4 separate regions of the Homo sapiens genome follow, and regions 1, 2 and 3 are each linked to region 4. Evidence: fine-mapped expression QTL. A gene starts in region 4. Each other region holds a variant in brackets. All regions are shown on one strand. Distances are between the middles of the regions.

Region 1 (5,146 bases), 63 kb after region 4:
GCTGGGGAGAGCTGGCCTGAGGCAGGAACACGGTAGCCTTCTCTGCTGGAGCAGAGTGAGGAAGCAGAGAGGAGTGACAAATAAGAACTGAGTGCAGCCACAGCAGCAGACCACGCTGGCCCTGAGGACAGGTTGCTCAGTCTGGCTTCTTTCTCTGAGTGAGAAGAAAGCCGTTAGGAGAAGGATTTTGAGCCAAGGGGTGACATGATGCGACTTGCACTTTAAAAGGATGCTCTGATTTTCATGTTGAGAATAGACTGAAGGAAGGAAAGGGGGAAGCTGAGAGCTGTCAGGAAGTTCTTGCAGTAATCCAAATGAAAAATGATGGGCTTAAACCAGAGATTAGCAGAGTGTGAGAAATAACCATGTTCTGTGTATTAATATATTGTAAGGTAGAGCCGACAGGATTTGCCAATAGGAATTGGGTATGGGATGGGAGAGGAATCCAGTTAGACTCGGAGCTTTTGGCCTGAGCACCTGGAAGCTAGAAGTTGGGAAAGGAAAGACAGCAGGAGTAGGTCTAGAAGAGCTACTGGGAGCTCAGTTTTTGATAAGTTAAGTTTGAAATATCTATTAAACATTCAAGAGCAATGTTGAGTAGGCAGTTGGATATATGAGTCTGGAGTTCAGGGAAGAGGTCTGGGGTGGAGATATAAATTTGAGAGTTGTCAGCGGGTAGATGGTATTTAAAGCCCTGATACTGTGTGAGGTCACCAAGGAGTGAAAATGGATGGGAGAGGAGATACCCAATGACTAAGCCTACTGCCTCCAGCGTCAGCAACCATTTGCACCCTTTGCTGTGGTTTTGGCATTTTGAGGGTTACCAAGCTGGGAGTAGGTCTGGGTGGGGAGATAAGGCATGATCAGATCTGTGTTTCTGATCAATGGCTCTGTGGGGTCGTCCATGGTCTATCTCATCACTCCTGAGCGTGGAGGGATTATAAGAGCTTCCTATCTGAGGTCCCCAGCAGGCAATGGTTAATGTCTCAGATTTCCATGGTTACATTTGTCCAAAGATCAGCTAACTTTTAATCTCAAGAGTCATCATCAACAAGCAAAGCACATTGGCAGCCCTTTGATATTGACAGGGAAAAATGCAGACTTGGGAGAAAGAGAGGAGGAGAAAGAGAAAGGAAGGGCAAGGGGCCCAAAGGAAGGCTCGGGCTGGAGTGGCTGCCCTGTCCCCACAGGCTGGCTCCTTCTTTACAGTAGTGATTGTCAAGGGGCTGGGAGGGGATGGAGCATCAAAACACCTGAGAGCTTTGCCAATCTACTCTTCCCTGGCTCCCAAGTCCCCTGACCCCAGGAATTCTAGAAGCTCCTCCTCCCCCAGTTGAGAAGCCTCACTTTCAAGGGTGAATACACTCTTGGATTGGAGCTGGGATGGTACAGGCATCGTTGGCCAAAAAAGGTGCCTATCAACATGTGACTTCTGCTGCTGCTTGAAGACATATCAGTGTTAAGAAGGGAGTGACCATATAATTTGTCACCCAAATGAGGGCACTTTTGACATGGGGGGGAAAGGAAAGCAAACCAACTGAGACTGTCCTGGGCAAACTCTGGTATTAAGACCACCAGCAGAGCTCCAAATGTGACTGAGAAATTCCAGTATCAGCATCACCTAGAGATATGGTTTTAAAAATAAATCTCTGAGCTCATCTCCAGATGTACTGGCTCAAAATCTTTGGGGATAGGACCCACGGTCTGCATTTTTAGTGAGCACCCGCTAGTGTAGGAATTCTCTCTTTGTCCCATCATCTCTATTCCTTCCGCAAGAGGTGATTCATGGTCTTTTCAGACAAGGCTTCAGGAAGAAGGAAGAGCTGCTGGTTGAGAAAGATCATTTCTCCTGCAGTAGGGTGGCCATCCTATTTCTAACATGTCCTAAAGCTGGGGCGGCACTGCCTTCCTGGGGAATTCAGCCTTGCTGTGTGTTCAGGACAGTCAATTCCTTATTTCCTTCTCAGACTCTGGCCTGCCCCATTTACCCCGACTAGATCCTGGGCTGCTGCAGTAAAATATAAAGAATTGCAAGCTGGGCGTGGTGGCTCACACCTGTAATCCCAGCACTTTGGGAGGCGGGCAGATCACAAGGTCAGGAGATTGAGACCATCCTGGCTAACACGGTGAAACCCCATCTCTACTAAAGATACAAAAAAAATTAGCCAGGCATGGTGGCACGTGCCTGAAATCCCAGCTACTTGGGTGGCTGAGGCAGGAGAATCGCTTGAACCTGGGAGGTGGAGGTTGCAGTGAGCCAAAATAGTGCCACTGCACTCCAGCCTAAGCGACAGAGCGAGACTCTGCCTCAAAAAAACAAAAACAAAAAGAATTGCTCCTCTGTGCACACCCAGGACCTTAAGGGAGCAGCAGAATTACTTCCTCAGATGTCAACACCTTGGCAAGTGTCCTTCCCACAAGCCAGCATCGTTCCCCTTTCATAATCCATTCTGGCTCTGTCATCTGTGAATTTAAAACCTTTTTGAGCTTCATTTATTTTTTAAGCCTGTTTTCTCTTCTTTGGATTGCAAATCCCATAAATTTCCTACCTGTTGAATGGTGTATCCTTTATTTGTCTAAATGCCAGCTCTTTCTCCTTGCCCAGATCTCAGACTCCTGAAAGACGGAAGA[C/T]AAAGAATGCCCCCGGGAAGCCATGTGTACCTTGGATGTACCTTTCCTTATATGGCACTTCTGTTTCAACAATCACTGGGTTGAAAGGGACCTTGAGTATAGTTAAATGGAATTTTTCCAATTCTACCCATCAGACCCCTCCTTTCCTTATTTCTTCCCAATCTGCTTAATACACTCAGTGAGGGAGCACTTACTACTTCCAGAAGCAACCAGATCCAACTTTGCAGAATGTTTTTTTTTAATGTTGTTTAAAAATCAGTCTCCCCTAAGATAGGATGATTCATGTGGTAATGGATTAGAGTTGGAGACAGTGTGAACATAATATAGATACAGATGGTTACATATAGAAATATTTATAGATAAATGTCTATACATGGGTTAGTATACACACATATATTTCCTTGATCTGTCATCTCAGAGGCCCTAGAAGCAACTCACACTCCAGTATCAACAAGCACACCTAGCCCCCAGATCTTGGTTTCTAATACCATTCTCCAGCAAAAGGAAACAAGGTTCCTTGGAGAAATGGCTGATTCTAGGAATGGGACAAGAAATATACAAAGTGAGCCTGGAGCATCTGGTAGTGCAGACAGTAAGGAGGTGCTTGAAAAGCCGCCATGATGGGATGAATCAAAGAGACAGAGGAGCTAACTGAAAGAGCTCCCAATGGCTAAAGCTGCAGCAATTTGAGCAACAACATAAATAAAGTTGTATTGGATTATAACCTAAAGTACAAATAAATATCAATGAAGCTATACTGATATAAATAAATGATTGTATAAATAAATAAATGAGGGAGAATAGACAAATCTCCCAGATAGAAGAATTCCAAATAATTGATGTCGATACACCACCCCAGAGGAGCTGAAGCAAAACTCCCTACTCCTGCGTAGGTGCCGCATAGTGACTTCCTTCTGAAGCATGTAGGATGTCGGGGGGGGGGGGGTGACTTTACAATGGAGAAACACAGCAAACACAGCTTCAGCCAGGTGATCAAGGTCAACATCAGCAGGGACAAGTCATGTTGAGAGTGTGTGCCCTGGTTATGATGAGATGAAAATGGCACGGTGCTTCTGTGGTCTTCCTCCCAAAAACCCACTAACCCCAGTCTAACCCTGAGAAAAACATCAGACAAATCCCACTGAGGGACATTCTGCAAAAATACCTGACCAGTACCCCTCAAAGCTGTCCAGGTCATCAAGACCAAGGAAAGTGAGAAACTGTCATGGCGAAGAGGAGCTAAAGAGCTATGACAATTAAATGTAACGTGGTATCCTAGGTGGGATCCTGGAACAGAAAAGGGACATTAGGGGAAAACTAAAGAAATCTGAATGAAGTGTGGATATTAGTAAATAATCATATATTGATACTGGTTCAGTAATTGTGACCCATGTAACATACTAATGTAGGATGTTAATGATAGGGGAAACTGGGCAGGGCATGTGTGGGAACTCACTATACTACCCTTGCAATTTTTCTGTAAACTTAAGACTATCCTAAACTAAAATGTGCACTTAAAAAAGAAAATCAGACTGGACACAGTGGCTCATGCCTCTAATCCCAGCACTGTGGGAGGCTGAGGGGGGCAGACCACTTGAGGCCAGGTGTTCAAGACCAGCCTGGCCAACATGGCAAAACCCGGTCTGTACTAAAAATACAAAAATTAGCTGGTGTAGTGGAGTGGCGCATGCCCGTAATTAGCCACGTATAGTGGCACATGCCTGTAGTGGCTACTCAGGAGGCTGAGGCATGAGAATTGCTTGAACCCAGGAGGTGGAGGTTGCAGTGAGCTGAGATCATGCCACTGCACTCAAGCCTGGGTGATGGAGTGAGACTGTCTCAAAAAAGAAAGAAAATCAGCTTTCCCTACCTATGTAGTGGCCTTGGCTCTATCCTTGGCCTGAGTCAACTCAGAAATGACCTAGAACAGGCCAGCCTTATGTCCCTCCAGGCTGCTCCCAAGTGGCAGCCATCACAATCACCTCTCCCCTGCCCCATCTGTCATCTCCTTTCCAAGTCAGGTATCTCCACCTCCATCAGAACCTCTGAATCCTGCTTTCAGCTTCTCTCACTGACTAGACCACCCTTCTTCAGTCACAGCTCAGTTCGACAACTGCCTGCCCCAGTTCACTGAGGAGCCCAGAATTGAACATGACACTCTGAGCATGGCTGCACAGCCCAGGGAAAAGCAGGCCTGTCACTTCCTTCAGTTCATTACACATGTCTCTATTAATATAGCCCATAGAGGCTAAAATGACTTTACTTTAGGGAGCAGCCACCTCACATGAGTATCTCCAACTCAACTATCCAGTTTAAAAAAAAAAACAACAACTCCATTACAATCAGTATAGAGAATAACTTTCCACAAAGTAGGAGCTTACCAAAAAAGAAGAAAGAAAGAAAGAAAAAGCAAAGGGTTGCCTCTGGCGGTAGTAAGTGTTCCAACATTGGGAGTATTCAAGTACATCTGGCAGCTACAAAAGAAAGGGGAGATTTCATGGGTGGAAATGAAAAA
Region 2 (5,146 bases), 160 kb after region 4:
CATCTTGTCAGAGGGTAACAGGCAGCTCTGTCACTGTTCAGACTATTCCCTAGTCCTTCTGGAAGCTGCTGCCTTTTAAAAAATGAACAAAGTGGATCTAAGATAGTGAGATAAGTAAAACCCAAAACCCATGGAGGAATGGTTCCAAATGCAGTGGTAAATGACAAGATAACAGAGCCCATTGACTGTCCATACACAACAGCACAAGAAATAAGGGACAAGACAACTACAGAGATGGCCTGCCAAGGACATCAGGGGGTTCAGGGTGACAGCAGACTTCAGATGATGCCTTATAAGTGACAACCATGAATGCCTTCACAATGAGTTTTATATAACAGGGTATATCTGTGTCATGTGATCCTGTTGGGTGAGTGGGGTCCAGTGAGTTGCAAAGAGGAGTTCTAAGTTCCCACAGCTGATAAGAGCACCACTGCAGCACTCAGACTCCAGGATAAGGCTTCCATTTGATTCATTCATGAGTTCAACAGATACTGATTGAGCACCTACAATGTGCCAAATATTTGGTTAGGCTCTAGGCGTACAATGGTAAATGAAGGTAACAATGGTAAGTAAAAGTAATATGTGTTGATCCCCTACTACTATGTGCAGGTACTGAGCTAGGCTCTAGGCATACAATGGTAAGTGAAAGCAATATTTGTTGAGCCCCTACTGTGTGCCCAGTACTGAGCTAGGCTCTAGGCATACAATGGTAAGTGAAAGTAATATTTGTTGAGCACCTATTATGTGCCAGGTACTGAGCTACGCTCTAGGTATGTAATGGTAAGTGAAGGTAACATTGTTGCCACCCCTACGCTGCCTTCCCTCCAGCCAGATAGAGGAGCCAAGTGCATGGGATGGGAGTGGGACACCAAGGGGCTTTCTAAAAAGTTGAGCTGAATTCTCAGGTTGCTATACCAGAAAGCAAGCTCTCTGCATTCATTCATTTACATATTCATTCAGCAAGCATTTATTGAGAATATCCTGTATGACAAGCACTAGGTTCCTCCCATGAGGAATGTGATAGAGACCCTCTAATGAGGTGGACAAGTCCCCTGCCCCCAAGATGCTTGTGTTGCAAGAGATACAAGGCTGAAAGATACAGAGGACAGGTGGATAGTGAACCCACTCAACATTACCTACCCCCTTACCAAAAAAAAAAAAAAAAAAAAAAAAAAACAGAGCCTCCTCATTGAGCTAGCAGTACAGGCTTTTTGAACAGGTGCCTCAAATTCAATGCATCTACTGGTCTGTGCTATACCAGCCACAGATTTGCGGGTGCAAAGCCACCCCCAAGCTACCCAGGCTCAGCATTCCCATTCCCCTCTTTCTTCTAATCCCTTTCTCTGAGACCCGTGGGAGCCCAAACCGTTCCGTCCCCTCCTGCACACAGATAAGTCTGTCTTTTCCCTGTCCCTTAGCCCCACCTAGGCTCCTGACATCTTTGTTGCCTTATGCTACACTTTAATTTGTAACAAAAATAACAAATGCCTTTAGGGGCAGTCAAGTAATGAAATGGACCCGGAAGGGATTATGCAAATGGAGGAGCTGGTGCCCCACCTGCCTGCACCAGGCAGCCACAACTCACTCCAGTGGGAAGGTGGGCCAGTGCTGCCACAAAAATGCTCCCCATTTTTCAACAAAAAAGAAATAATAAGAATAATACCATTTTTATTCTGCTCAAGAATACTCCCTCTTCACAGGCACATACCCCTTAAAATGACAATAATAGCTTACATTTAGTGGGCTTGGCGTGTCTGGGTTGAATCTAAACTCTTTACAATAATCAACTCGTTTAATCCTCATAATAATCTCAAGAGGAAGGTATTGTAATTATCCCACGTTTACAGATAAGCTAAATGGTTTGTGCAGGGTCATACAGCCCAGACAGACGAAGGCAGGACTGGATCCCAGGAGTCTGGCTGTCAGCTGGCACTCTCAACTACCACTCCCTTCTTCATTTGGGATGGTGAATTGGTTTAAGCAAAAGCCACAGTCACTCATGCTGCCCAGGATCAAGAGCAGGATTGGGAGGGGAAAAATGGAGCCCCTGGAGGCCTAGTGATCTGAAATAGTCCTCCCCACGGTCACGTTCAAGTCTGCA[A/G]GAAGAGGTGGCAGTGCTTGCTAATGTCGAGAGTCCCCTCGCCAGGCGGGCTCAGCCAACCTTCACTGAGGCAGAATGGTAAACCATCCACTAGGCCTCTTCAAGCATCTACACGGTTGCCAACCCTACTCTGGGAAGGTGCCATTCTGAGGGCCAGGAGTTTGATTATGTGTCACTCTGGCTGCTATGGCCCCCTCCCAGGGTCTGGGTATCACACCCAGGCCAGTGCCACTGGACCTCGGCCGAAGCAGGAACTCCGCTCCAGACTCCAAGAGCCCCGTGTAGACAGGAAGATGAGCACTTCATTTTTGCAGGGAGCCAGCCAAGTTCTTCCAACAGATTCCAGGCTGAACCTCCACCCAGACTTCCAGCCCAGAAGGCAAACCGAGCCCCTCCCTGCCTCCCTGTGCCCAGGGCCAGTCTTCTCTGAGGCCAGAACCCCAGCCACAGGGGCCAGGAACATGCCAGAAGTTGCTGTTGTGTCTGTAGCAACAGGCATATCCTGGAAGGAAGGCAAGAGAACATGGGCTGGTTAACACCACAGATGACGCCAGCCTCTCCCACGGTGGCTTGTCCTCTAAGGAACTACTGTTGACAGTGAAGTGGTCAAAAAATAGGCCACCAGAGGGAAAATGAGACGCAAGAGAGAAGAAAAACATCCTCCAGGAAAGCAGCTAACATTTATGCAATGCCTGCCATATGCCAAGAACTTTACATCCATGTCTCCATGAATACTCACACCCATCCCAGAATATAAATGTTATGAGTCTATTTTATTACCAGAGAAACTGAGACTCAGAAACAGTAAATTACACAAAGTCACATAGCTAGCTAAAGTGGCAAGAGCTGTAATTCAACCTCATGACTAGCTCCAAAGCCTGGGTTCTTAAGCCTTATGCTGTGCGATCTCTAGGTAACTGACACTGGGGAAGTTATTTAACCAGTTGTTCATGTGATGTACAGTGACTGAACGCCTACTGTGTGCTGGATGTTGTTCTAGTGGCTTGGGATATACATCTGTGAACAACACTGGCAAAGGTCCCTGCCCTAGCAAGACGTGGCAGGCACTAAACAATACCCAGAATAAGGAAAGTCTGTAGCATGTTGGAGCATGATACGTGCTATGGAGGGCTGGAGAAGAGTAACATCAAGGCCATCCGGGAAGGCCCGGATGGAGGTGGAATGCCATTTTAAATAGCGGCGGGGGCAGGGGGGCTCCCTGAGAAAGAGGCATTGAGCAAAGACTTAAAGTAGGTAAGGTGTCTTTGAACCTCAGTTTTCCCATCTGCAAGATGGGGATAATACCTCACAGAGTTATTATATTAGACTTGACATGGTGCCTGGCACATAGAAAGCCCCCAACAAATTAGAGATACTATTATTAAGTAGCCACGTTCAGGATGGAGCCCCGGGCCCGTTCAGTGCCAAAGCTCCTGTGCTTCCCGGTACACCCTGCTGCCACCCAGGACACCTGTGGTGGGAGAGATGGGCAGGACGGGGCCACCTCTGGAGAACTGACAGATTCACCAGAAAAAGATGGCAAATGGCCATAAGGTGCAGAGCCAACCTTCCTGGGGCCTGGGCTGTGCTATGTTCTGCTGAATTCTCATGCAGTGCCATTCCCAGAAAGAATAGTCATAAAACAAAGTGAACTGAGCTAGGCGGGCATGGCATGGACTGGGCCATACAGAGCAGAGGTCACCAGGAGCTAGTGAACTGGCCTGGGAATTTGGCCCTCAACAATCACAGAATCCTAGAGCTTTAAATCCAGGAACACCTGAGAAGTCATCTAGTCCTCTTCCCTCCTTTTCAGACGTGGAAACCAAGGCCCAAAAAGGAGCTGCAACTTTCCCAAGGCATCTGCACCCCCGTCTGGTCCTTTTTCCTGCCGGGTTGCCGGCTGCTCCTCAAAAGAGCTCAGCTCCAGGCTGCTCCCAGCACCCTTCTCCAGAAAGCTCCAGGTATTCCAGAAGCCCAAGTGTATGAACAAGATCAGGAATAAGAGAGGCAGGGCTTATCCTTCCCACTTTGCTGACATGGAAACTGAGTCAGGATACGTGCCCATCAAGTAACAGAAGAACCATACTTGGTCCTTAGAACTCAGCTGGGATTAAATACAGATCTGAATGGGGGTCCCGAGTGCAGAGAGGAGCCTGTTCAGCTGTGAGGAGGGAGGCAGGGTCAGGAGAAGGGTGCGGCAGATGGAGAATCTGTATCACCCGTTCCCAGAACGTCCCGCCCAGAACCTCATGCCCTCAGCCTGCCTGCCAGCAGGAAAGCAGTCTGGGGCCAGAATAATTCCCCTAAAGCTAGCTGGTTCTCCTTCTTCATGGCCAGCCCCAGAGCAGCCAGGAAGGATCTCATCCCCTAGAGTCATTTAATGCACCCTCCCCACAAATCTAAGGGCTAACTTCCCTCCCTCCACCCCAGACCTGGCTGTAGAGCTCCTGGAACAGGAAAAAAGCACATCCTCTTTCCCCAACTGCTTATGGAGACCATGGCAGAAGGACAAGTTTAGGCCAAAGGAAGGAAAGTGAGCCAAACATACACCCTCTCTGCAGTTCAGATCCCCAGACTCAAGGTTTAGAGCCCTCGAAGGCTGACACAGAAGAAAGAGGGAGAAGGAAGCCTGGGGCTGCCCTCGTGTCACCCAGTCATTGGAAAGTCTCAGTGCCTCCTCCCACTGCAGAAGGTGTCTCACATGTGCCAAAATGCCATGTTCGTTCTTAGAGCTGTGCACAAATCCTATGGCCCTCCCCTCTCCCTTCCTTTCAACTGTCCTTAAAATTTTCCCTTCACACTGAAACTCTGGGATCAAATGGACTTGAAATCCAGACCCTCCACCCAGGCATTTGGAAGTGGCCTTAAGAAGTTGTTTCATCTCTGAGCCTCAGTTTCTTCATCCACAAAATAGAGGCAGTGATAAAATCCTCATAGAGTTGTTGTGAGGCTTCCTCGAGCCTATAAGGTACTTGCTGCAGTGCCTGACTGATGAAATGCAGATATTGTCATAAAATCTGTGCCAGGACGTTTAACCTCCTGGTT
Region 3 (5,146 bases), 150 kb after region 4:
CTTCTGTAAGCATCTTAGATTTGTAGAATGGTCTTTCTCCCCTGTCCTCCACCTGCCATCTCTTTATCACTCCATCTTTTCTAAGTTGTTTTTTGTTTGTTTTTATTTTTTTCAGAAACAGGGTCTCACTATGTTGCCCAGGCTGGCCTTGAAGTCCTGGGCTCAGCCAATACTTCTGCCTCATCCTCCTGAGTAGCTGGGATTCCAGGCATGAGCCACCATGCCCAGCTCTTTTTCCAAGTTATTATGTAGAGCTCAGTGCAAATGCCGCCTCCCTAAGAGGCTGTCCCTGACCACCTGACTAGACAAGGCCCTGGCAACCCCCAGCTCCTCCTTACCTACTTGCCCTACTTTTGTCAATATCTGGCATTATTTATTTGTTCATCTGTTTGCTTGTCTCCCCAACTGGACTGGGAACTCCATGAGAACAGGGGCATCCCCAGTGACAAGAGAGAGCCTGGCCCTTAGCAGAGCTCAATAAATAGAAACACAAGAAGCATTCCTGGGATAACAAAGCCAGTTAGCTGCACAGCTGGGATTTGTCCCCAGGTCTCCCACCCACTTCCCACCATGCTCTTTCCAACATACCAGGTAAGGGGTAGAGCCATGATTTGAATGCCAGACTCCAAAGACAACCTGCTTATCACAGGCCTTACTGTATCCTCCAGTACAGCCTCCTGATGCTTGGCCTGTCTGCTAGAACGTGAGTTCAAGAGCTGCACTATCCAACATGGCAGCCACCAGCCATGTGTGGCCATTAAATTTAAATTAATTAGAGTTAAATAAAATTGAAAATTCACCTCTTCAATCACGTGAGTCCCACTTCAAGTGCTCAACAGCCACATGTTACCAGTGGCTACTGTACTGGACAGCACAGATGCAGGACATTTCTGTCCTTGCAGACAGACAGGTCTATTGGACAGCATTGCTCCAGAGAGGAGGGACCTCAAATCTGTCTTGTTCACCATTTCCCTAGCACTTAGAACAGTGCTCAATTCATGCTTTTATTCAATGGATGAATTAGTTGATGCTGATGCTTCCGCTGAGAGCCTCCTGCTCTCCTCTGCTGCTGATGCTCTCTCCTTCTGCCCCTCAGGGAAGGATGAAGCCAGCAGTGTGGAGGTGACGTGGCCAGATGGCAAGATGGTGAGCCGGAACGTGGCCAGCGGGGAGATGAACTCAGTGCTGGAGATCCTCTACCCCCGGGATGAGGACACACTTCAGGACCCAGCCCCACTGGAGGTGGGCAAAGGCATCTGGGCCTCATAGCCAGAAAAGCGGGCACCACCCACAACCCCATGGGCTGAAGCTGGGTTCCCAGGAATCTGCAAACTCAGCCTCTAGAGTGATGGAAATCTTGGCAAAGCGAAGGCTTCATACTGATCCCTCCATTTGTAGTTTGCACAACACTATCACACCCACATCTCTTCTGCTTCTCAAAGAATCCCTGGTGTATTGGCAGGGCAAGCATTTTTGCACCCATTTTACAGAGGAAGAAAACTGAGGTTAAGAGAGGAAATCCACCAAGGCCCACCAAGGCTGTACAGCCAGTTGTGAGCAAAGTTTTAAAATGACCCCAGGTCTGTTGCTGCCCTCCTGGTTCTTTCTGAGTCTCTGACAAGACCTCCTATTGCCCTAGGGTGGGGCTCAGAGCCTGCACCAGGTTTTCTGGAGGCTCTTTGAGGAGCAGCTCTGGACCCATCTCAGCAGTGTCGTTCCAACTCTGATGGGGTTCACTTGGTGGCGATTAACAGGAACCCACTGAAACTGACACAAATGAAGGGGGCTTATAAGGAGGATCACTCATAAAACTCAGGGAAGCTCAGGATGAGTAGAAACTGGCAGCTTGATGGCCTCAGCCCTAGGAGCTCAAGGACCTTTGTCAGTGCACTGGCTTTGGGAGGAGAGGGGCCCCTCTTCCCCAACAATCCCCATCCACCCACCTCATTCATCAGTACGGTTGATTGACATTTTGTGTCATGTGTGTTACGTTTTTAGTCCCCTGCCCCACCCCAGGCTGCTGTCTCTGAGACCCCCATATGGGCATGGTAGAGCCTCCACAGCCTGGCAGGGCCGGCTCCCAACTCTTAAGTCTCTGAGTCAATTTGTTCAAATTCTTGCTGCAAAGCCTTGAGTCTTCCCTCCTGCTAGGATGTCCACCCATCAGCCCTGGCCAGAGAGGTGGGACACAAGCATGGCTGCAGGCACCCACCCGTGTGAGGGAGAGGTTCTTGGAGAAGTGAATGTGGGCAGTGAGCAGACACCTCAAAAAGCATCTCCCAGCCCTCATTACACTTTGCCCTGACAGACCCAGCCTCAGTCACAGGGTGATGCTACAGAAGGGACAGGTTCTGTTAGACGTCCCAGCTCGTGTGGATCCTTTGCACAGGGAAATGAGCAAGAGTCTGAACCGTATCCATTCATGGCCTTCCCGCCAGCCTTCTGTTCTCAGCGCAAAGGAAGGGTCTTACAAGGGAGGGGGCTCCCCCCAGGCCCAGAGCTCAGAGCATGCCTCACACTGTGGTTAGGGTGACAACTACTCTGTGGCTGTGACTAGGAGGGAACCTGGGATGGGACCTTCTCAACTCACTCATGTCTCTGCTTCTGCCCACCTTACAGTGTGGCCAAGGATTCTCCCAGCAGGAAAATGGCCATTGCATGGGTGAGTTGCCTTCAGTCACCAGGGCATGGGGTAGAGGCCGGAATCTCCCTGGGGAATGCCCGCCTGACTCATGCCAAGGTCCAGGGTGCAAGCAAGGGGCAGAAAGGAGGACAGGGGAGGGTGTTGTTTGTCCTGGGACTCCAGATGCC[A/C]AGACAACCACCACATGACTCACCAGGGTGGGAGTGATATTAGTGACCCACAGGCTGAATCACTGCGGTTCTGGAAACTGGCAGTGTTTTCCTGCCATGAGTACCGAGAAACTGCAGATGGGAAGGAGACACACCACCAACCTGGCACAGGGGGAATAGCCACATGCCATGGCCAGCAAGTCCATGTGGAGCAGCAAGCAAGGGGGCTGGCAGGCAAGGGTGTGCATTGCCAAGGGCATTGGGGCAAAATAGTGTATGGAGTGTGGTCACAGTGTGGAACGGAGACTGCAGCCTGGTGCAGTACTGGGGCAGGCAGGTAGCTGCAGCACTACCAGGATGGCAGCTCCTTGACGGTCCAAGAACCTTCTGAAAGTCCCCAAGAGCCTGGAATGGGAAGGGGCAGCCTAGAAGTTCAGTGTCCAGGAGACCTTCACCCCCAACACTTTCCATCCCAGTGACCAGCAAGGAGGGGTCAGGCCAAGGATCCCTCCTTCCTTGAACCCTCATCCAGCATTCTTCCCAAGTCTACTCTGCAGCTGCTCATTAACCCTTTGCTACTGAGATACAGGAGTAAACAAGACAGATACCACTCTCAGGAGCTGAAAACCAATGGAGAGCCACAAAAGTAAACAGCTGTCGACCACACAGTGTGATCAGGGCCCAGATGGGGGAGGGCAGGGGCTTGGAGATGACAAAGCAGGGGCCCTAAACCAGCCTAGGGAGGGTCCTAGAAGGTGCCCTAGAGAAAGTGAGGTCCAAGCTGGGCCCTGAGGAATGAGGAGCAGTTCGGCAGTCACAGAGAGGGGAGACATGGTTCTGGTGGGGGGCACTGTCTGAACAAAGGAGCACAGGTGGGGAGGTGGAGGAGCAGTGGTGCCAAGGGTGGCTGGAGGAGGAAATGACTCCCCTACACTCTCCACATGCCCACCCAGCCCCACTCCAAACACATAGTGCAGGTGCATAGAAATTCCAGAGTCTTCTCTGCCTGCAGGAAGGACCCTTTGAGATCAGCCTCCTCTTCCTTTTCATCGCCCAACAGGCAGTTATGTGCCTCGTACACAGCAAGTGTCATGCTGGGAGCTGGGGATGTAGGCCAAGTGCCACCCCCGCGCCTCCACAAGAGGGGCATCCATTCTAGTGGAGGGAGACAGACCCTGAACGCATGACCACACACCTGGACAAGATGATTTCAGAACCCTCTGAGCAAGGTGCTCCCTGGAGACTGTTCCAGAGAGAGTGGTCAGGGAGGGCCTCGGGGGGAAGACTCTGAGCTGAGACCTGAAGGATGAGAAGGATCTAGGCCCAGAAAGAGTTGAGGGAAGGGCAGGAGTGAAAAGCGGGAGACAGGACAAAGGCTTTGTGTGTTGAAGGAGCAGGAGGGATGCCAGTATGGCCTGGAGATGATGGAGAGTCCATGAGGCCCCTGTAGGGAGTCTGAATTTTGCTCTTAGGAGCCTTAGAAGCTAAACTGGGGAGTGACATGATGTGATTCACATTTTTAAAGGCTCCCTCCAGCTGCTGAATTGCAGAGTGGATTGGAGGGAAGAGGGGAAGCCAGGTATTCTGTGAGGAGGCAGCTGCAGAAATCCAGGCAAGAGGTCACGATGGCAGGAAATTGGGTGGTGGCAGAGGAATGAGAAAGAGGTGACAGAGAGAGGTGGACTGGTGGACTGCGGGGCAGAGTGGACAGGCTCTGCTGTGAAATTGCACAGGGGGCAAGAAAGACGGAGAAATCAGGGGTCGCTCTGATTTCCCCTTGAGCAGCTGATTGATGATGGGGGTGTTGATTGAGCTAGAGAAGACAGAACAGAGGGCCAGAATATGGGCAGGGCAGGGCAGAATCTGGAGTTCTATTTTGGACATATTAAGCATGAGGTGCATCTTAGACATCCAAGTGGAGCTGTCAAGTAGGTCATGGGTTATTGTATTCGTGAGTCTGGAGCCACGGGGAGAGGTTGTGACTGGAGATAGAACTTTCGGAATCATCCATGCATGAAGAGATCACCTAGAACGATTGTAGTAGACAGAAGAGAGGACCCAGGACCAAGCCTGAGTGCCCACCCCCTGCCCCCAGCATGTAGAGACCAAGTACAGGAGGAGCCAGCCAAGGGAACTGAAGCAGGGAAACTGAGGCTCTGCGAGGAAGGCACATTCCCAAAGCCAGACAGTGTATAGGCAGGCAGAGCCTGGGCTGGTACTTGCTGCCCCACACCTTCATGGTGAGTGGTTCCCCTCGCCTTGCAGACACCAATGAATGCATCCAGTTCCCATTCGTGTGCCCTCGAGACAAGCCCGTATGTGTCAACACCTATGGAAGCTACAGGTGCCGGACCAA
Region 4 (5,146 bases):
AATGTGTGTATTAGTCAGCTCAGACTGCCATAGCCAATACCACAGACGTGGAGCTTAACCACAGAAGTTAATGTTCTCACAGTTCTGGAGCCTGGAAGTCCCAGATCAAGGTGCTGGCAGGTCTGGTTTCTGCAGAGGCCCTGCTCCTGGCTTGCAGATGGCCTCCTCCTGTTACTCAGGCAGGCTTTCTCCTGAGGATGCACAGAGAGAAATGGGAGATCTCTGGTATCTCTCTCTCTTCTTACGAGGACACTAGTCCTATTGAATTAGGGTCCACCCTTATGATCTCATTTTGCCTTAATTGCCCCTTTAAAGGCCTTATCTCCAAATGCAGTCACACTAAGGGTTAGGGCTTCACTATGTGAATTTGGTCCGGAGAGGCACAATTCAGTCTATAACCGTGTGCATGTGCCTCAAGAAAGCTGTGTTTGGGCAATGTGGGAGGACAAGAGGTCTCTCACGGGATTGGGGGTGGGGAAGGGCTGGAGCTCTGAGCAGACACTGACATGAACTGAGCAAATGGACATCGAGGACATCAGAGAAATGAGAAATTTTCCAACCAGGACTGCCTGGCCCACTGGGCTAAACCCTCACAAGTTCAAGTGCTGAAGCCAGATTGTATTCCCTGGAGCACTTCCTGGCTGGAACATCTCCATCATTTCCTGCATTTTTCTGTCCTTCCCTAGCACCTTTGGTCTGTTGTAACCTTACCTGGCTAGCTGCAGGAAAGTGTGAGATTATTACAGAGTTATTTTGCACAGAGCACCTATTCACATCTGGTTGGCTAATGCTGATAATTACCGTGCTGGTTACTAAATCTGTCGGGTCTGGGTGAGGTGAGGCGCTACAGCTGGGGCTGCTGTGCACAGCTTCACCGGAGAAGAGAGAGGTGAGAACAAAAACCAAGAAAGGTGTGCTCAGATGTTTGGGATTGAGTGAAACTGGTTAATTACCAGTCACTTGCTGTCTCCCTGAGTTGGAGTTTCTGGCTAAGGAATGCTCATAGATCAGACATAATATGACAACCTGCAACTTATTTCCACATTAAGAGGGTGGCGGGGACCAAGATGCAGAGAAAGTGTGGAGACAGTCTCTCAGGTGCCAGAGCCTTGGCCAGATGACTCAGATGCCCTCAGAACAAGGTGGTGGCATGTTCCAGCAGGGTGCAGAGCCAACTGGACTCCTTATGCAGAGAGCTGGGGATCAGATATGGCCTTGGGGGCAGAGTCTATTTGCCGATAGATGAAGGTTCTTAATCAGGGCCCTAGATTAAGTTTTAATGATCCACGAACCCTCCTAAAGTTGCATGTCAACATGTGTGTATGTGAGTGAGCATTTTTATAAGCAACAGATCCATAACATTTATGAGATTCTTGAAAGGTTCTAAAGGGTCTGTGATCCCCAAAAGGAGGGTGATTATAAACTACTGTCCTAGACCCCTGAAGAAACAGGTTGACATTGGACCGAGCCCCAAGAGACTCAGGGTTCCTAATGATCCTGAAAGTATACTCAAGGTGTGTGTGTGTGTGTGTGTGTGTGTGTGTGTGTGTGTGTGTGTAAATGTGTGTGTTTGTATATTTTTCTAGAAAAATGATTCAGTAATTTTTGCCAGATTTTCAAAGGGGCCCACAACCTTACAGGCTTGATGGGGGCTCAAAAAGCCAGAAAGTTTGTCTGTGCCTAGCTATTTCTTTTCAGAGGAAGATCACAGAGACCTGAAAACAGAGCCCAGACTAGGTCCTGGTAGTTCTGCTCAAAATCTGTGGATAACAGGGGCCAGAGGCTGGATGTGTGGCCCTCTATAAAAGAACACATTCAAATCATTCTAAGAGTCAAGGGCCCAGAAGCCAGACTAGTGGGTGATGGTCACAAAAGCGTCAACGGATGGGAAAACAGTCCTAGCTCCTTCCCTCTCCGATGGTGGATTCCCAAGTCTTTCTCTTCTGTGGCCCCTTTACCTGGCTTTCAGAAACCCAAAGACCTCACTCATGGAAGCTCAGAATTCATTCAATAAACACTGAGCGCCTACTATGTGCCAGGCTCTATTCTAGGCGTAAAATAAAGGATTTGCCTTCAGAGTGTGACCCACCAAGGCCAGTTTCCTGCCTGAACAGGGGTATTTTGAGCATTGCTGATCAAGTGTGTTTTTCTGGCGCTTAGCACCCCCATTCCCCTGGTCCAGAGAGGCAGAAACCATCCCCCCACCACCACCAAGGCAGCGGGTTGGGGGCGAGGAGAGGCGGGCAGTACCTGTGATCAAAGCGGTGAGGGAGGCTAGTAGGACGCAGGCGGCAGGAGCGGGTGGGCCAGGCCCGACTCGGCCACTGCTGGGGTAGGGACTAGGTGGGATGGGGTGGGGGCACTGCTGGTGGGGACGGGGTGGGGTAGAAGCGGCGCTGCCCGCAGCCGCCTGGGCCTCTGCGCGCCTGATCTCCGAGCTGCGCTCGCCCGCTCCCCGCCTGCGGGGGCCGTCGCGGAGCCCTGCTCTCCATACTGAGCAGTCCCCGGGAGGTGCTCGGACACGTCCCCAGGCTGGATAAAGATCGGCTCGGCTCTAGCTCCGTAGTCGAAATCTCGCCATCAGCGCGGCTCGCTCGGCCGCTTTGGCCCGGCCCGGCGACGCCAGATCGCTATCCTGGGGGGAAATGGGAAGGCAGTGCAGCCGCTCCCGCCTCCACCCTCGGTCCTGCGCGCAGGGGTGGCCGCGGGGTCCTGGGGCTCGCCGCCCTCCCCTCCCCCTTCGCGTTCCTTCCCTGCGCTGCCTCCCGAGGGACCCTCGCTTCCCTCCGGCCTGGGGCCCCCAGCGCCCAGCCAGGCGCCCTCTCCCCTCCTCGCCAGGCCTCGCTGCCGCCTGAAGGTTACGCGACGCAGTGGCGGGGCGCGGGGGGCGCCCGCCCTCGCCGCCGCCTTCGCCGCCGCCCACCCCAGTGGCCGCCGCGCCGCGCCGGGCCAGCCTGGCTGCCGGCTGCTGCCACCGCAATCCCGGCTCCTAAATCAGCGCGGGGAGGCGCTCCCTCCCCACGCCCGGCTCTCCGGGCTCTCGGGGCCGCGATTGGCCGCGCCGGCGCCCCCCACCCCGGGCCCCCGGCTCCAGCTGCCGCGCCATTGGCTGCGGGCCTCCGCCAGCCTTTACATAAGACCGGGCGCGCTCGAGTGGAGTTGTATAAAGCGAGCGCGCGGCGTCGGGGCGGGAGGCTCGAGGCCAGCCCGGGACCGGGGCTGGGAGCAAGCAGGCGGCGGCGCCGGCGGCAGAGGCGGCAGCGAGCGCCCGCTTCCCACGCCCCTAGGCGGCGGGGCCGAGAGCGGGAGGATGGCTCCGAGCGCTGACCCCGGCGTGAGTATCTGCACCGGTGCCCCCCACCCTAAGGCGGAGAAAGTTTCTCCAGCTCTGCGCGCCCCCCCGGATCCGCCCGCAAGGGTGGCGGGGACGCCGCCCGGGAACCCGGGAAGACTGGGATCGCGAAGGCGGCGGCTTCGCTCCTAACTTGCTGGGAGGCGCTGGACTCGATTGGCGCGCGGAGCCTCCCCCGCGGGCTGGGGGTGAGGCGGCGGCCGGGTTGGAGGTGGCGGAGAGGTGGGAGCTGATGTGTGGGGGCGACAGCCAGCAGCTGGCAGAGAAAGTGTTGGGGGCGCACTGGAGGTCAGCTGTCAGGGGAGGGGGCCTCTGGGGCCTGGAGGGGGCGGAGCGGGTGAGGAGGGATGTGCCGGGCTATCGGGAGAGTCTCCCAGTCAGCCAGGCTGAGACCCGGGCCTGGGAAGCCACTGGCCTCGGCCGAGTGCCTACGCTTCCAGGCTGGGGAAGAGCCCCGCGGGCTGGCTCTTCCTCCCCTGGGAAGCCGAGTTCCCGGGCACAGCGCTGGGTGGCAGAGAGCTCCGGGAGCCAGCCCCGCGCGCGGCGTAGCTGCTAGCCGCCTTATGCTGGACGAGGTGTGGTCTTCCCTTCAGGCTGCCTGAGGCAAGCCGGCTTCAGGCATTCCAGGGGAACCCTGAGTCCTCCTCGACCCCGTGGGGGCACTTGGAGGCTTTGATGGGGCAGCCAGGCCGGGCTTGGGGGCATGCCCAGCAATGCAGCGCGCTTCTTTGCAGTACAGTAGTTGGGAGCCCTGGTTAGTCCCGCTTCTGCAGAAAGCAACTCAAGAATCCAAAGTCATCCCAGCCTGGATGGAAGCCTCCCAGAGTGGCGGGGAAATTCTCCTAGGGTTGAGAGCTGGGGGGGCTTCCTCCAGGAATGACTAATGAATATTGCTGCTGCTGCCGCCGCCGCCGCCGCCGCCGCCGCCGCCGCCGCCGCTGCTGCTGCTGGTGGGTGCACCCAGTGTGGCTTCTGCACATCCCAGGAGATGCTTCCGTTCTCCTGACAGGACACATTCTTGAGTTGCACTTGAGGTGTCTTCTGGGATGGGTGCAGGACTTTCCACGTGAAGCCAAGTGGAAAAGAAGGGAAGAGGGTCCCAGGACAGGGGACAGTTCTATAGTGTTTTCTTGAGTCAGGGGAGAACTCATGTGGGAAGAGATAAGCGATTGACGGAGATTTGGAACCCAGACGACTTGGGGCTGGAGATGTCCAAGACTGAATTAGAGCTCATTGAGAGTCACAGAGTACCTCACCCTCAGCCATGGGGGAGAGGTGGAGGCTGGAAAAGTGGGAACATGGTGGCTGTTCCAGCATGGTTCTTGAGAAAATGTTCTCTCTCTCTCTCTGACTTGGTTAAGAACATCCTTCTGGCAGTAGGTCCTAAAGTCAATTTAAGAGGTAATGAAGGGAGTTGAGGGTCTTGATGATGGCACAGAGGACCACAATTAGAACATTTCCATTTCCGGTGGGTACTAATGGACTCTGGAAAAGGTCGAAACGGTGTGTAGGGAGTCTGGGGAACCTGCTCTGTGGCTGCTCATTTGAGCCTGAATCCTCCACCTTATCCCATCCCTGAATGTAGGTGGATGTTCAAACTCCTAGGGTACCTGCTTCAGCCTGGAGATATTTTATGGGTGCTATCAATCTATATCCCAACCCCCAGCTCCATCGTTGTCTGCTGCAGTCAACATTTTTCTGCTGCATTTCCCAAGACCTTCTCTCCACTGGGGATTTGTGCAGCGAAATACCTGCTTGTTGCTCTTTCTTCCCTTCTCCATCTGGGCTGCACCT

Which allele goes with the higher level. Positions count from the first base shown, and alleles are read on the strand shown. Sizes are in standard deviations (SD) of each study's normalised expression.
In carriers of allele C in region 1, the expression in sun-exposed skin of the gene that starts at base 3,162 in region 4 tends to be higher than with T alone (small effect, 0.32 SD a copy in GTEx).
As copies of G replace A in region 2, the expression in unexposed skin of the gene that starts at base 3,162 in region 4 goes down (small effect, 0.32 SD a copy in GTEx).
For the expression in tibial artery of the gene that starts at base 3,162 in region 4, allele A in region 3 goes with a lower level than allele C (small effect, 0.28 SD a copy in GTEx).

The links. PIP is the estimated chance that this variant, and not a neighbour inherited with it, causes the effect.
Region 1: its variant is the best candidate, but not a certain one, in a credible set for the expression of CRTAC1 in sun-exposed skin (GTEx, PIP 0.55).
Region 2: its variant is the best candidate, but not a certain one, in a credible set for the expression of CRTAC1 in unexposed skin (GTEx, PIP 0.78).
Region 3: its variant is the best candidate, but not a certain one, in a credible set for the expression of CRTAC1 in tibial artery (GTEx, PIP 0.53).

The regions. Positions count from the first base shown.
Region 1 is chr10:97,965,425-97,970,570 of GRCh38, reverse strand. The region is part of intron 2 of CRTAC1 (cartilage acidic protein 1); the gene reads left to right. Among named protein-coding and RNA genes, the nearest start is that of CRTAC1, 63 kb to the left of the region's middle. The variant C/T (reference allele first, on the strand shown) is at 2,632.
Region 2 is chr10:97,872,976-97,878,121 of GRCh38, reverse strand. The region is part of intron 14 of CRTAC1 (cartilage acidic protein 1); the gene reads left to right. It overlaps MIR3085 (microRNA 3085), which reads left to right and starts at 2,225; the gene lies at 2,225-2,309. RefSeq lists an enhancer at 1,798-2,298. The variant A/G (reference allele first, on the strand shown) is at 2,102.
Region 3 is chr10:97,880,302-97,885,447 of GRCh38, reverse strand. CRTAC1 (cartilage acidic protein 1) reads left to right here. Exons shown (of 15, transcript NM_018058.7): 12 at 1,097-1,242; 13 at 2,620-2,662; 14 at 5,056-5,146. Among named protein-coding and RNA genes, the nearest start is that of MIR3085, 7.0 kb to the right of the region's middle. RefSeq lists a silencer at 2,662-2,956 and an enhancer at 2,245-3,444. The variant A/C (reference allele first, on the strand shown) is at 2,812.
Region 4 is chr10:98,028,637-98,033,782 of GRCh38, reverse strand. CRTAC1 (cartilage acidic protein 1) reads left to right here and starts at 3,162. Exons shown (of 15, transcript NM_018058.7): 1 at 3,162-3,334. The coding sequence starts at 3,311.